Regions from separate parts of the Homo sapiens genome. Here region 2 is linked to region 1. Evidence: fine-mapped expression QTL. A gene starts in region 1. The other region holds a variant in brackets. All regions are shown on one strand. Distances are from middle to middle. Region 1 holds the start of FALEC (focally amplified lncRNA regulator of ECM1). Region 2 has its middle 6.0 kb from the start of ADAMTSL4.

Evidence for each region. PIP is the estimated chance that this variant, and not a neighbour inherited with it, causes the effect. A credible set is the group of variants that fine-mapping cannot tell apart.
Region 2: its variant is the best candidate, but not a certain one, in a credible set for the expression of FALEC in sigmoid colon (GTEx, PIP 0.51).

What each region holds. Positions count from the first base shown.
Region 1 is chr1:150,513,760-150,518,144 of GRCh38, reverse strand. It overlaps FALEC (focally amplified lncRNA regulator of ECM1), which reads right to left and starts at 2,393. Exons shown (of 6, transcript NR_186305.1): 1 at 2,083-2,393; 2 at 25-372. ECM1 (extracellular matrix protein 1) reads right to left here. Exons shown (of 10, transcript NM_004425.4): 10 at 4,356-4,385. RefSeq lists a silencer at 2,199-2,568 and enhancers at 2,659-2,808, 2,879-2,948.
Region 2 is chr1:150,541,230-150,545,614 of GRCh38, reverse strand. No RefSeq gene overlaps it. Among named protein-coding and RNA genes, the nearest start is that of ADAMTSL4, 6.0 kb to the left of the region's middle. RefSeq lists a cis regulatory region at 1-214 and enhancers at 1,308-1,808, 1,809-2,309. The variant A/G (reference allele first, on the strand shown) is at 2,347.

The DNA.
Region 1 (4,385 bases):
TACAGTAAACAACCATATACCTACCACCTAACTTATTGCTATATTTTCTTCTTCACATCTTTCCATATACCTAGAAGAATTCATTTTTGAAGCTGAATTTGTGATATCTAGGAGACATCCAAGTGTCCTGTGTAATAGGCTGCTAGTGTAGAGTGCAGAAATACATTAAGAGCAGGCTACAAGTGCTGCCTCCTTTTCTTCATCTCCCATTCATACTCAACTCTCCAGAATTTGACTTTTGACACCTTCCGTTTGAAGTTGCTACCACTGAGGACACCGACTACTGAGAAGTCCAAAATTGAACTCATGTCTTCCCTCTGTGAAACCTGCTCCTCTTCCTCCTGTATGTTCTGCTGCCTTAGTCAGTATGAGCTGTGAAGTACCATAGACAGGGTGGGTTAAACAGCAGAAATGTATTTCTCACAGTTCTGGAGGCTAGAAGTCCTAGATCATGTGCCAGCATGGTCAGGCTCAGGTGAGGGCCCTCTGCCAGGTTGCAGCCTGCCAACTTCTTGTATCTCACAGGGCAGGAAGAGCTAGAGAACTCTCTGGGGTCCCTTTTATAAGAGCACTAATCCCATTTATGAGGGCTCCACCCTCATGACCTAATTACCTCCCAAAGGCCCCACCTCCTAATACCATCACACTGGGGGCTAGGATTTCAACAAATGCATTTGGGGGTACACAAACATTCAGTCTGTAACACTTACCTTAGTTACCACAGCCTCAAACTTGGTAGTCACCCTAGACACCAGCAAACAGGTTCTCTCAACCCTATCTCCTGAAGAGCTTTTAAAAAAAGTCCCCTCCCTCACCATGCCCTCAACCTTTTTTTTTTTTTTTTTTTTGAGACGGAGTCTGGCTCTGTCACCCAGGCTGGAGTGCAATGGCACAATCTTGGCTCACTACAACCTCTGCCTCCTGGGTTCAAGCAATTCTTCTGCCTCAGCCTCCCAAGTAGCTGGGATTAGAGGCATGCGCCATCATGCCTGGCTAATTTTGTATTTTTAGTAGGGACGGCTTTCACCATGTTGGTCAGGCTGGTCTCGAACTCCTGACCTCGGTTGATCCACTGGCCTCGACCTCCCAAAGTGCTGGGATTACAGGTGTGAGCCACCGCGCCTGGCTAGGTATATTTAAATATACCACACTTTCTGTGTTATTTCCTCTTCCTGGAAGATCTCCCTGAAGGCCAGGCTAGGTGGCTGTCTCAGAATTCTGAGAATATTTCTAACATTAGATGTTCAAGTCTCCACAGACGCTAAAGTCCCTGAAGGTGGTGTTGTAGTCTTCGTTATAGCCAGAGTACTTTTAGCACTCTGCCTAACACAAAAAGGACTGTTTACTTTAGCTGAACTTTGCATACATTCAATGCTTTGTATATCCTTCCCTTTCAACAAAACCCTACTCAAGCTTGAATTCTGTGAAGCTTTCCCTGGCCTCTCCAATAATTAGGAGCTCTGACTCCTTTACTTTACTCACCGCCCCTGAATTGAGCAAGTTATATTTTAATAGTGTATACAACGAATTGCAGTGAATGTTAACACGTTCACCTTTTATTGCTAACAGCAATGCTACCCGTGCTTCCAGGCTCTATCCAAACTCACTGCTTCCAGATAATAGCTGGCTGGTCCCTAGGGAGAATTCTTTAACTCTCAGCATTTGATGCTCAATTCAGTACCTCCTCATATTCAGCACTGTAGCTTACAAGTGCTCTCCGGGTTCCCTTCCTCTCCTCCCCGACAGACTAAACTGCTAGGGTTTGGGACCGCAGTCCTCCTCTCCTCTGACTCCCACCTCTCTGCAGCATTTGGCGCTGCACTTTGCAAACGCAGCTCTAAAGCATCTCCGGGAAGCTCCTGCACAGACCAAAGCCCCCCCGCTCCCTTTTTTTTTTTGAGACAGAGTCTCCTCTCTCGCCCAGGCTGGAGTGCGGTGGCGCGATCTTACTGCAGCCTCCGCCTCCCGGGTTCAAGCAATTCTCTGCCTCAGCCTCCCGAGTAGCTGGGATTATAGGCGCCCGCCACCACGCCCTGCTAATTTTTTTTTTTTTTTGTATTTTTAGTACAGACGGGGTTTCACCTTCTTGGCCAGGCTGGTCTTGAACTCCTGACCTCGTGATCCACCGCCTCGGCCTCCCAAAGTGCTGGGATTCCAGGCATGAGCCACCGCGCCCGGCCCAAAGCCCTTTAAAGACAAGTCTCCGCTTGCGGATTCGCCCGCCAGGTGACAAGGCTTCGTGGGCCAGGACTCCGCCCGCTCCCCGTGGGCTGGGGCGACCCAGGCCAGGAGGGTACACGTGGGACCGGGGGGTAGGGGAATTGCTGGGCCGGCCTTTTCCCCCTGCCTCCCCCGGTTCCTCTGTCCTGGAGGCCGTAGGAGATGCGCAGGACGCCCGCACATGCGCAGTGTCACTCTCGAGCTCCAGACTCGAGCGCGGCGGGCAGGAGGCCCAGGCGGCCCCGGGCTCCCGAGACTGGGCTGCCGGCTCAGGGGCGGGGCACAGCGCTGCCCTCGCCCGCTCATTGGCTCGCGTGCTGACGGACAGGTGGGGCGGACAGCCGGCGAAAGATCTGAGGAGCCGCTGGACTGGAAACTGCTACTGGGCTAAAAATACTTAAGTAAATAAATGAAAGCCTGTGGAGGAGGAGAGGAAGGAGAGGCGGGCGTGGGTTTGGGAGCAACTGAGGCTCCGCTTGCCCCTGGCTGGCGCAGGATGATGGTTCTTGGTTCACTCTCTCCGTCTCCGCTAGAACTGGAGCGGAGAAGTCTGCTTTCTGGAAGGTCGTCCTGGCGGCGGAGTCACACAGGACTTGTTCCCCTGGGACTCTTCATTCCGAGTCTTCATTCCGATTCTTTCAGATCCAGCCTTGAGGCCTCGGGTTCCTGGGAGCAGCTTTGTAGGGCTTGAGAGTCCTAGTCACCGCCACCCTCGGGTCCAGCTCAGGTTGGGGGCTACAGCTCCGTCCCTCCGGCACTTGGGACGACACTCTTTGAACTGGCCTCCCAGCGTCCCGCCTTGCTGGCTGCCGACTAAACTTTTTTTTTTCTTTTTGAGACTGGGTCTCGCAGGTTGAAGTGCAGTGCCGAGACCATAGCTCTTTGGGTGGCTGGGATTACAGGCGCGCGCCACCTCCCCGGCTCTCCGACTAGACATTATTTTATTTTATTTTATTTTTGAGGCACAGTCTCGCTGTGTCGGCCAGGCTGAGTGCAGTGGTGCGATACTGGCTCACTGCAACCTCCACCTCCCAGGTTCAAGTGATTCTCGTGCCTCAGCCTCCCGAGTAGTTTGGATTATAGGTGGGCACCACCACGCCTGGCTAATTCAGTAAAGATGGGGTTTCACCATGTTGGTCGGGCTGATCTCGAACTCCTAACCTCAAGTGATCCGCCCGCCTCGGCCTTCCAAAATGCTGGGATTACAGCGTGAGCCAGTGCGTCCGGCCTAGACATTCTTAAAAGGCAAATTGGAACACATCCTCCGCTTGAAAACGCCAGTGCCCCCTGGGCCAGGGCACCAAGATCCACTTAAAACCCTGCGGGTGAGGCATTAGTGATGAGCTCCTGCTTATCATTCCAGCCATATCAGAGAGGAAGGCCACCAAAGAGTCAGGTCCTTTCAGCCTTGACCCTTGTGCGCACTCTGCCCGCTCACACCCTCTACTTCTTTACTGGAGAAACTCTGACCTCAACGCCCCTCCTGTGCACCTGTGCTGCCCCCAGCCCCACTCCCACCTCGGGACGTTCCTGTCATGCTCAGAGCACGCTGGGGGCCCTGTACCACAACACTTGTCACACCTGCTAGGCTCAGGGACAGTGAACAACCTCAGGGCAGGGGCTGTGTGTGTTCTGGATGTGTATCCCCAAGTCTAGCAGAGTGTGCATAGATAGGGGTTCAATAAATGGATATTGGCCAGGCACAGTGGCTCACGCCTGTAATCCCAGCACTTTGGGAGCCTGGCCAACATGGTGAAAACCCGTCTCTACTAAAAATACAAAAATTAGCTGGGTGTGCTGGTGCACGCCTGTAATCCCAGCTACTCGGGAGGCTGAGGCAGGAGAATCGCTTGAACCCAGGAGGGTTGCAAGTTGCAGTGAGCCAAGATCGTGCCACTGCACTTCAGCCTGGGCGATAGAGCGAGACTGTGTCTCAAGAAAAAAAAAAAAAGGATATTGAATGAATGAAGGCATGAATTCTAAGGATCAAAAGTGAAGCTTTAAAAATGTTAGGCTGGGCTGTGGCATTTTGGGGGCTCACCAAGGCCAAGAACCATATCTTCTTTGAGTCCTGATAGCTAGCTAACAAGGTGGCACTCCTTTCAAAATATGTGAATAAATTCAAGATGGCAAAGTGACGTCAAGCTGTTTAGTTATGGTCGCAT
Region 2 (4,385 bases), 27 kb before region 1:
AGAGAAAAGGTCTGCCTTTGACATTTGTAACTGCTGAGAACTGAAGGTCAGATACAGTCCTTTCCACTAAGAAATGGCTGCTCACCGAAGAGCTCATGAGATTTGCTACTGCTGTCACCTCTCATGGCTTGGTGGTCTGAAAATATTGTAGAAAGAAAAGAGTTTCCTATGCCTCAGCAACTTGTGAAATACCAGATTAAGTTTGTGGACACTGTCTCCAGGATAAAAAGTTTTTAGGCTGGGTGCGGTGTCTCACACCTGTAATCCCAGCACTTTGGGAGGCTGAGGTGGGTAGATTGCTTAAGCCCAGGAATTTGACACCAGCCTGGGCAACATAGCAAGACCCTGTCTCAAAAATAAACAAATACATAAATAATTTTTAAAAAGAAGTTTTTAAGGCCGGGCACTGTGGCTCACACCTGTAATCCCAGCACTTTGGGAGGCTGAGGTGGGCGGATTACCTGAGGTTGGGAGTCCAACACCAGCCTGACCAACCCTGTCTCTACTAAAAATAGAAAAGTAGCCAGGCGTGGTGGCGCATGTCTGTAATCCCAGCTACTTGGGAGGCTGAGGCAGGAGAATCACTTGAATCTGGGAGGCGGAGGTTGCGGTGAGCTCAGATTGCACCATTGCTCTCCAGCCTGGGCAACAAGAGTGAAACTCCGTCTCAAAAAAAAAAAAAAAAAAAAAAGAGAGACGTTTTTAAAAAGATTATGTAATAAGTAGATGTTCATCCAGCCTGTAATCCCAGCACTTTGGGAGGCCGAAGTGGGCAGATCGCTGAGGTCAGAAGTTTGAGACCAGTCTGGCCAACATGGTGAAACCCCGTCTCTACTAAAAATACAAAAATTAGCCAGGCGTGGTGGCAGGCGTCTGTAATCCCAGCTACTCGGGAGGCTGAGGCAGGAGAATTGCTTGAACCCGGGAGGCGGAGGTTGCAGTGAGCCGAGATCGTGTCATTGCACTCCAGCCTGGGTGACAGGGCGAGACTCCATCTCAGAAAAAAGAAAAGTAGATGTTCATCCAAAATTATCTCTAAAGATTGGACAGATAAGGAAAAAAAGAGGGGACAGGCTGACATTGGTCTGACTTTGAGCTCAACATACTGATTTAATAATAATAATATAGCTAACATGTATATAGCACTTACTTTGTGCCCCCGACCGGGCTGTTAGAAGAGCTTTACACACATTACCTCACTCTGTCCTCATTGTAACCCTGTGAGGTGGAGACTGTTACACCATTTACAGATTTGCAAACAAAGACACAAAGACAAATCCACTAATTTGTCTCTAATCTCTCAGCTAGAAAGTGAGAGAGCCAGGATTCTAAATTAGGCGCTGTTATTTGTATACATTGTATGCAAATAAAATTTCCAGAAATTTAGCTGAATTTACTTAATAATTTTTTCCCCTGGCAGTAGCATAAGGAAGTTTTATAAATTAAATAACATTTTGAATGAATGCCTCATATAAGACGTTGTCCCTATTCCAAGATAATGCTGATGCTAATACCAATAATATGTACAGTTGGGGCCCAGAAATGAACATGCAGCTGTCTGTCTTTAGGTTTGTGGTCATAGCAACCATTTTCGGAAAGCCTGGTGTTTGCTTTTCTGCCTCTCCGAATCATGGTTGCTCAACTCCTTTGTTCCAAAACAGACACCCCATTCCCAATTGCTGCGCGCCAGGCTGGCTTCCAGCCGTTGAGTCCGTGTCCTGTCATGCTGTCTCCACTGTTTTGTCTCACTGATGCTGTTCTTCTGACCATTCCGCTTTGGCTTGACGCAGCCGCCCATACTAGGCAGCTGCTATGAGAGCAGCCAGTGGTGACCTGTGCTCTTCCAGGGACTGGAGGGTGAGACCACCTTGCTGTGTTTACCTTTGTATTCACCACCTCACTCTGCACACAGTAGGCATTTAATGAATGTGTGTGGGGTGAGCACTGCCTCAGCTCTGGCCACATTCCAGCATTTTCTGGTTGTTGTCCTGCCCCATCACGGCCCAACTGCCTTGCACCTGATGAAATGATGAAGAAACAGGATGTGATCCATTTGGTACGATGAGGACCAAGACATGAATGGGATATTCTGGTCTCCCAGTCACCGCTATGTAGACTTTATTTCTTTATTTATTTTCTTTTTTAAAAAAGATATACTCGGTCAGGCGCGGTGGCTCACGCCTGTAATTCCAGCACTTTGGGAGGCCAAGGCGGGTGGATCACGAGGTCAGGAGTTCAGGACCAGCCTGGCCAACATAGTGAAACCTCGTCTCTACTAAAAATACAAAAATTAGCTGGGCATGGTTGAGGGCATCTATAGTCCCAGCTACTCGGGAGGCTGAGGCA[A/G]GAGAATTGCTTGAACCTGGGAGGCGGAGGTTGCAGTGAGCCGAGATCACGCCACTATACTCCAGCCTGGGCAACAGAGCGAGACTCCATCTCAAAACAAAAAACAAAAACAACAAAAAAAGATATACTCCTATATTTTTTTCTTTTTTTTTTTTGAGATGGAGTCTCGCTCTGTCGCCCAGGTTGGAGTGCAATGGCAGGATCTCGGCTCACTGCAACCTCGCCTCCCAGGTTCAAGCAATTCTCCCGCCTCAGCCTCCCAAATATGTGCCACCACCAGCTAATTTTTGTATTTTTAGTAGAGACGGGGTTTCACCATGTTGGCCAGGCTAGTCTCGAACTCCTGGCCTCAGGTGATCCACCCGCGTCAGCCTCCCAAAGTGCTGGGATTACAGGCGTGAGCCACCGTGCCTGGCCAACTTCACAGGTTTTCATAAAACCCCAAATACAACTGATGGAATATGTATGAAAGCTGTGGAGTCATATACAAAACGAAGGCAGCACTATTGTTAATGATGCTGTGCAAAATTATTTTGTAGCTGATGTTCTAGGTAGATCAAGACTGCATTAAAGGAAGACTTCATGCTGCTCCTCTGTGATGCTCAGAGTTCTTTGCTGGGGATGCTCTCAGAGTCCAACAAGACTCTGGTCAGGATTTGCCAGTGACAGAGAGGACATAATGTCTTTTCACAGTAGGTTGACAATAATGGCTCAGCCTCTGTGTCAGGAATTGGGGGAAAAAATGATGCTGCCATCTGTACAGGACCTTTCTTTTCTTTCTTCTCTCCTCCCCTCTTTTCTCTTTCTTTCTTTTTTTCTTTCTTCTTTCTTTCTTTCTCTCCTTTTTCTTTCTTTTCCTTTTTTTTTTGAGACAGAGTTTCACTCTTGTTGCCCAAGCTGGGTGCAGTGGCGCAATCTCGGCTCACTACAACCTCTGCCTCCCAAGTTCAAGTGATTCTCCTCCCTCAGCCTCCTGAGTAGCTGGGATTACAGGCGTGCACCAACACGCCTGGCTAATTTTTTGTATTTTTAGTAGAAACGGGGTTTCACCATGTTAGCCAGGCTGGTGTCGAACTCCTGACCTCAGGTGATCCGCCCCCAAAGTGCTGGGATTATAGGCGTGAGCCACCGCGCCGGCCCTTTCTTTTCTTTCTTTCTGCTTTTTTTTTTTGAGACGGAGTTTTGCTCTTGTTGCCCAGGCTGGAATGCGATGGCATGATCTCAGCTCACTGCAACCTCTGCCTCCCTGATTCAAGCGATTATCCTGCCTCAGCCTCCCGAGTAGTTGGGATTACAGGCCTGCACCACTACGTCCAGCTAATTTTGTATTTTTCGTAGAGACAGGGTTTCTCCATGTTGGTCAGGCTGATCTTGATCTCTTGACTTTGTGATCCACCTGCCTCGGCCTCCCAAAGTGCTGGGATTACAGGTGTGAGCCACTGCACCTGGCTTTTTTTTTTTTTTTTTTTGAGATGGAGTCTCGCTGTGTTGTCAGGCTGGAGTGCAGTGGCGTGATCTCAGCTCACTGCAACCTCCGCCTCCTGGGTTCAAGCGATTTTCCTGCCTCAGCCTCCCGAGTAGCTGGGACTACAGGTGCACGCCACCATGCCCAGCTAATTTTTTTTGTATTTTTAGTAGAGACAGGGTTTCACCACGTTGGCCAGGATGGTCTCGATCTCTTGACCTCGTGATCCACTCGCCTTGGCCTCCCAAAATGCTGGGATTACAGTCATAAGCCACCACGCCTGGCCTTTTTTCTTCTTTTTTTTAGATGGAGTCTTGCTCCAGTCACTCAGGCTGGAGTGCAATGGTGTGATCTCAGGGCTCACTGCAACCTCCACCTCCTGGGTTCAAGCGATTCTCCTGCCTCAGCCTCCCAAGTAGCTGGAATTACAGGCACCCACCACCATGCCCGGCTAATTTTTGTATTTTTAGTAGAGACGGGGTTTCACCATGTTAGCCAGGCTGGTGTCGAACTCCTGACCTCAGGTGATCCGCCCCCAAAGTGCTGGGATTATAGGCGTGAGCCACCGTGCCGG